Homo sapiens: one gene and its partner. The protein of the gene in region 1 interacts with the protein of each later gene in a pairwise test. Each region holds a gene or a part of one and is shown on either strand. Other genes may lie near its edges.

Region 1 (3,500 bases):
TCCTTTAATATTACAATACTACTTATTTATTGGTTTGGAAACTAGGTCACCCTACATGATGTTTTGATTTTTCTCAAAGGCATCATGAGTACTCTGCTTATTCTTTCATTCTTGTATTTTTAGCCTTCTAGTTGAGTTAGGGACCATTTTATCAGAAATCATTTTAGCACTGTAATAAGAAAAGCTCTGTTAAGGGTAGATTATATACCATAATGATTTTCAGACTTCTTTTTATAAAAAAGGTATCTGGAGACTCTGAACAGGCACATGCATACTCAGGGGGAAGGGAACAAAACATGGAGGAGTCTGCCAAAGCACAAAACTTCCTTCTGGTCCTCACTGCCTTCAAATAAATACAACTATTTAAAAGAAAAAAAATATCTCACACTGTGATTTAAAAAAAAAAATCAGTATCTTCCATTTCCTGGAGAGTCTTTCCAGGAACCTGTGGCAGGGTCGGAGATCAGTCGTCTGTCTTCCGGGCTAGCCTACAGAAAGTCCAGTTGTGCTCCACTGTGTTTTCATTGGCCCGCTCACTCATGTGATGCACCCGGGTGTTGCGGATCGTGAAACCTTGTTTTGTAATGTATTCCATCAGGTGGACCCTAAGAGAAACTTCCTGGTGATAATCACAGGGTCCAAAAGTAAAGGAAACCTGGCAGTCTCTGGTGTCCATCATGTGCTTATTCCACTTGGTAAAATAATTTGAGATGCCTTCTAGTAAGGAATGGACCTTAGTGGTGATGGTTAGTTGCGTTATGATGACAGCCACTGGGTTGGAGTACTTAGAAAGCTTCCGAGTACTAGACAGCTCCACAACTTCTTCAAAAGTATCCATGGGATACAAAGGCTTAGGATCATTGAGACACTGAATCAAGGGCTCAATCTGGTAAAAATCTGCTTCTTTCCGAAGCAGATCAAATTCCTTAAAATCCAACGGTAAGGTCAATTCTGAAGTTCTTAAGAAGTTGAGGACATATCGGAAAAGAGGTCCATCTCGATCAATAAAGTAATTGCCTTGAGGGTCTCGAGCTGTGGGGAAGTCCCCCCCAAACATAGCTCCAAGCATGGAATCCGGGTAACGCGTCAATGTGGTGAGAGACGTTGTATACAAGTGTCCACCTACATTTAATGTGACTGGGTCAGTCATCTGAAATTTGTAAAGAAATGATCAGTCATCTGAAATTTTTAAATACTAACTTTGACAAATTAAGAAAGTAAGTGATACTGAGCAAAGCCCAAGATTCTTTCAGGCTATAATGTATTTAGTAATCCTCTAATGCAAAATGACTTTACTACCAGCAATAAACCCACCCAGATGAAGTGATCTAACATTTGCTTTCAATAGAAAAAAAAAGGAGAAATCCAATTTCTCTTTAAAGACTTATGCTAAGAATACAGGGCATTGACTTCCAGAGCCAAATCATTTCAGGCCCATTATCTATAGAGTTTTCAGGCCAGAATATATGTGGGAAGGGAAAAGCCACGCTAAAATACACTTATTTTTTTCTGATTTTTTTTTAAGGCTTGCATTTTTCTGAATTTAATTTAACATTAGATAGAATTAAAATGATCTGATAATATAGACATTTACTTTCAATATTTCTTTGGTTTCTCCCCCTCAAACAAAAGGAACAAACTATGAAATTTGTTTTTAAAATAAAAATTTGGGCCAGGTACAGTGGCTCATACCTGTAATCCTAGCACTTTGGGAGGCCGGGGCAGGCAGATTGCCTGAGCTCAGGAGTTCAAGACCAGCCTGGGCAACATGGCAAGACCCCATCTCTATTAAAAATACAAAAAAAAAAAAAAAAAAATTCACTGGGTGTGGTGGCCTGAGTAGTCCTAGCTACTTGGGAGGCTGAGGTATGAGAATCACTTGAACCCAGGAGGCACAGGCTGCAGTGAGCCAAGATCATGCCACTTCACTTCAGCCTGGGCGACACAGAGAGATTTTGTCTCCAAAAAAAAAAAATTATTTAAATTAAATTAAAAACTGTGCAGACCTAATCTTGGTAACTTTTTCATGGAAGTGATACTTTCAAATACTAAGTTAAAATATACAGTTTAGTCAATACAACCAAGCCAGAAAAGCATCACATACCCAAAAGCTTACAGCAGCCATAAAATTTCATAATCTGATAGTGTATTCACTTTTGTAACATTAATGCTGCAATCTGGCCTTTAATTCTGAGAAGCAAGCTTCTCTTAAAAAACATACCTTCAGTTTTAGAAATACTATTTACGAAAAAAATAGGCCAGGTGTGGTGGCTCACACCTGTAATCCCAGCACTTTGGGAGGCCAAGGAGGGTGGATCACTTGAGCCCAGGAGTTGCTGACCAGCCTGGGCAACATGACAAAACTCCATCTCTACAAAAAATACAAAATATTAGCCACACATGTTGGTGCCCACCTATCGTCTCAGCTACTCAGGAGGCTGAGGTGGGACAATCACCTGAGCTTGGAAAGTCATGAGCCGAGATCACGCCATTGCACTCCAGCCTAGGGAAAAGAGCAAGACCCTGTCTCGAAAAAAAAAAAAAAAAAGGAAGAAAGAAAAAAGAAAGGCAGACAGAGACTTCAGGTATAGGCAAGTAAAATATACCTTACACCAAAGGAATAGAAAAATAGGGAGACATATGCACACACAAAAAATGCAAGTGGGGAGAAGAGGCACTTTCTCAACCATTAATCTCCCAAACCACAACAAAATATCCTCCAAACTCACTAGATCCCTTTGTAGTCACTATTCATGAAGAAAGAGTCTTCAGAGCAACACACTTGAAAAAATAAAAAATCACGTTACCTCTCCAGTGATTATAAAAAGTATTTGGAAAATCCATTTTGAGTTTGATTCCATTAAAACACCAAACAAAGGCAGAGGATCGTTTGAGGTCAGGAGTTCGAGATCAGCCTGGCCAACATGGTGAAACCCCGTGTCTACTAAAAATACAAAAATTAGCCAGATGTGGTGGTGCACGCTGATAATCCCAGCTACTCAGGAGGCTGAGGCAGGAGAATCTCTTGAACCTAGGAGGTGGAGGTTGCAGTGAGCCAAGATCGCGCCACTGCACTCCAGCCTGGGCAAGAAGGCGAGACTCCACATAAAAAAAATTAAATAAAAATTTAAAAAACACCACACAAGACAAAAACGCCTCCAAAATACATCTAAACTAAGTAAAAGGGGGAAGAGAGGTTACACAAATTCACAATTTTCTTTTCTTATAAGATATACCTAAAAATACATAAGGATAAAAAGACACACAAAAATAATTCCCCAGCCTTCAAAATGCATCTCCAAGAAGCACTCACCATATAGCCCCAGTCTCCATTATCCATCTGCTCCAGTGATGCGTCTTCAAGAGCCCAGGTTTCAGGGAAACTTCAAGAGGAGAAAAACAGACATATGATAGCATATATAACTAGGAAAATAGAGAAGAAAGTCTTTTTCCACCCAACAGAGGAGGCCAAACACCAGAAAAACTACTCGTCCTTGCTC
Region 2 (3,500 bases), on another chromosome or scaffold:
GGGAAGGTTTTGCCAGGCCCTGGGTCTGGGAGGAGAGTGCAGGCTTGCTGCAAGGCGAGGAAAGGTTTCAAGAGGAGAAGCTCACGTCCCTGCTTCCTGAGTCTCAGGCAGCATCCTCCTCAGGAGACTAGAACCCAGGTCATCACAGCAACTCCACCCCTTTCTCCAATGCCCACAGCAGGGGCTGGCCTGGAAGAGGCCCGCCGTGTGTGCTGAAGCAAAGCCGCACAATTAAAGAACCTGCAACAGGTTCCCCACAGCAGAAGAGGTCTGAGGATCCCAGAGCCGTTCTTCCACAATCTGCTTCTTCAAATTTCAGTTAAGACACAGGAATTCTATTATTGCAGAGGTTTCTGCTGGCCTCTAGTCTGATGCTGATCTTTGCAGCAGCATCAACCCAGGCTGCAGTTTTCTGCAAAACCAGGGTTGTCTGGCTCCCTGGCAGATGGGGAGTGGGGGCTGGAGCAGAAGCAAAGAAACCCTTCAAAAGAAACTCCAAAGAAATTACTAATGATTATTAAGAATAAAAGGAACAGTTATTATACTAGTAACAGCACCTATATATGTTTGTGTATATACTATTATGATAGTAATAGCATGGGTGTGTTCTATGCACAGACATATAGACATAGAATAACAATATTATTAGGACAACTCCCATGTATTGAGCACTTACTATGTGCCTGAGGTTATGCTAAGGGGTTTACATTCCTTTCCTCATTTAATTATAAAGTTTAGTGTATTGACTTACACATTCATTCCACAAATATCCAATGTGCCAGGCAGGACACCAGGGAGGTGACACAGGCAACCAAAAAAAAGTCCCCACCCTTAAGGGCTAGCGGGTGGAGATGGACAAGGACGGGGGTAATTATTAATAGAACACAATGGAACAGGTCTCCCTTGAAGTGTTTGAAAAAAGTGTTGAGGGCCCAGAGAGAATCCAGCTGACAAAGTCTGAGAAGGCTTCCAGGAGGAGGCTGGCAAGAAGAGAAGGCAATGCTGGAGCTTGGCCATAGAGAATAAGCAAGAATTTGCCAGGCAAAGGAGAGAGAGCAGAGACTCTGCCGAAGCATCAAGCCCAAGGTGGGGACTGGGGGAGCAGGCAGAGGTGAGATCAGGAGGGATGAGCCCTGAGTGCAGGAGTGAGGTGGTGGGTGGCATTGGATGGCAGTGACCGGGTTCAGGGTCAGGTTTAAGAAAGCTCACTCAGGCTGCAGAGAAGGGGATGGGTTCTGGCATGGCCTCCACATGGGGATACTGGAGAGGAGGCCACTGTGACTTTGAGAGATGAGGTGTGACCTGGGCAGTGGCAGCGAGAAAGGCCTGGGTCTGATGTATGGGTCAGAGGGCAAAAATGGCCAGCACAGTGATTGACTGGACTCACTGGCTGGAATTGAGGAAGGGTGGAGGGCAACTACTAGTGGGTACAAGAGGGGAAATCTACTGAGAGGAGGGAAGGGAAATGGGGAGAAGGGTTGGGGCAGATGTACTCAGCTTTGGACATGCAAAGCACCCAGGTACAGAGGTCCAGGGGGTACTTGGTAACAAGTCCTGCCCTTGCCTATTTGGCCTCCCTGTCAACTGAACATGAAGCACTTTAGACACAGTGTGGCTTTGTACTGGGACCTGATTTTCCACATTCTTGCAGGGGCAGCTGTGAGGTGGTCCATACCGATCCTAAAACCTGCCAATCATGTTCCTGGCTGCAGCATGGGGGTGGGAGGGTGTGGTCTCCTGGACTCTTCCACGTTGGGATGATCCAGGATTTGGGATCAAGAAACTTCATTTGTGAGTCATCTGGGGGAAAAGGATCCTATCTTATGGGAACACCAGCGATAAAAATAATTGATCTGGCCAGGCATGGTGGCTCATGCCTGTAATCCCAGCACTTTGGGAGGCTGAGGCGGGTAGATCACGAGGTCAGGAGTTCAAGATCAGCCTGGCCAAGATGGTGAAACCCCATCTCTACTAAAAATACAAAAATTAGCCGGGCGTGGTGGCACGTGCCTGTAATCCCAGCTGAGGCTGCCTCGGGAGGCTGAGGCAGAGAATTGCTTAAACCCGGGAGGCGGAAGTTGCAGTGAGCCGAGATTGCACCATTGCACTCCAGCCTGGGCAACAGAGTGAGACTCCATCTCAAAAAAAAAAAAAGTCACTGATCTACCCAACTCACGACACAAATCTACAACACTGCATTTTCTTATTAACCCTCCTCACAGCAATTCTGTGAAAGTTTGATTTCTTGAGGCCTTCCATAATAGTCATCACAATAGTAGCTCACAAGTATTGGGTTCTGACCATGTGCAGGCATTGTTCTAACCATTTTAGGTATATGAATTCATTTAATCCTCAAAACATCCCTAAGAAGTAGGGATAATTTATAAACCTCATCTTATGGGGAAGGAAACAAGCTCAGAAAGGTTAAACAACTTGCCTAAAGTTATATAGGACTAGGATTTGAACCCAGGCAGCCTGGCCTCAGCCCAAATTCTTGCCCTAACTAATCCTGAGTCATATCCCTGGCTCTCTGCTTCCTTAGCAGAGGGCTCCTCCCGCTCATTCCCAGCAGGAGGGTAAAGGCTTAATCACCAGAGCCCTGGGTGTGCAGGCAGGAGGGTAGCCCATTGGGTACCTAGCTCGAGGTGCAGGACGGGCCCATTCCCAGCCAGGGCGGCATCAGGGGTGGCAGGAGGTGCCGGCGGGCTGTTGTGGAATTCCCAGCGCTTCATCTGCAGCTGCTGCAGCCAGTACAGCATCGCTTGCTTGGTGGCGGCCTGAGAAGCACAAGGATTAGTTGGCAAGGCCCTGTGCCTGAAGGGTGGCACTGGGTGCAGGAAGAGGGGAAGGTTGTGGGAGGCTTAGGAATGCTTTCTTTCCCAGGAAAAAAAAAAGGGGGTCACTGTAGGTATGTATGCTTCCTGGCCACAGAAGATCATCAGGCTCTGGTCTCCCACTCAGCGGTTCCTTAGCTGCTCTGGGCCTCAGTTTCCTCATCTGTACTCTGGTGACAATAAGTCTCATTGCATAGGACAATGATGAGGATGAAATGAGACAAGGGTATCACACAGTATCTGACACACAGTAGGTGCTCAAAATGTGCTCACTGGATAGAGGAATTTGGAGGCGCTGTGAGAGGGGGAGGTGCACTGAATTCTGATATGCGTGGGGTCCTGGTACCATCACTATCTCTGTGTGACATCTCCAAGTCTTTGCTGCCTTTTGTGGAATAGGAGTAATCCTTGCCTTGGGGATGCACTGGAATCATGGATATGAATGGAGACTGGAAAGCCACATGCACATGTGACAACATGGTGGCACCTTCCAGGTGCTCTGGCCCTCCAAACAAGTTCATGGTAAATGCTGGTCATTAGTCTCCCAGCACTGGCTGGCGGTTGGTCCAAACATCCACTTTCACATCCAATAACTCCTGGATTCTTCAGGAGGGAGGCAAGGCAGGAGTGAGCACCCCTTTCTACAGATGGAGAAACTAAACCTCT

Evidence for each region. Proteins that work in one complex are often made in the same cells at the same time.
Region 2: the proteins of KCTD6 (region 1) and TBC1D2 interact in binary tests that used the Homo sapiens proteins (3 or more experiments, as listed by UniProt).

The regions. Positions count from the first base shown.
Region 1 is NC_000003.12:58,498,596-58,502,095, reverse strand, and holds part of KCTD6 (BTB/POZ domain-containing protein KCTD6), read right to left. Parts: exon of another isoform or gene 3,384-3,500; 5' UTR 3,341-3,383; coding exon 3,314-3,340; intron 1,151-3,313; coding exon 464-1,150; 3' UTR 1-463. UniProt on the Homo sapiens protein: Probable substrate-specific adapter of a BCR (BTB-CUL3-RBX1) E3 ubiquitin-protein ligase complex mediating the ubiquitination and subsequent proteasomal degradation of target proteins.
Region 2 is NC_000009.12:98,249,150-98,252,649, forward strand, and holds part of TBC1D2 (TBC1 domain family member 2A), read right to left. Parts: intron 2,778-3,500; coding exon 2,636-2,777; intron 1-2,635. UniProt on the Homo sapiens protein: Acts as a GTPase-activating protein for RAB7A. Signal effector acting as a linker between RAC1 and RAB7A, leading to RAB7A inactivation and subsequent inhibition of cadherin degradation and reduced cell-cell adhesion.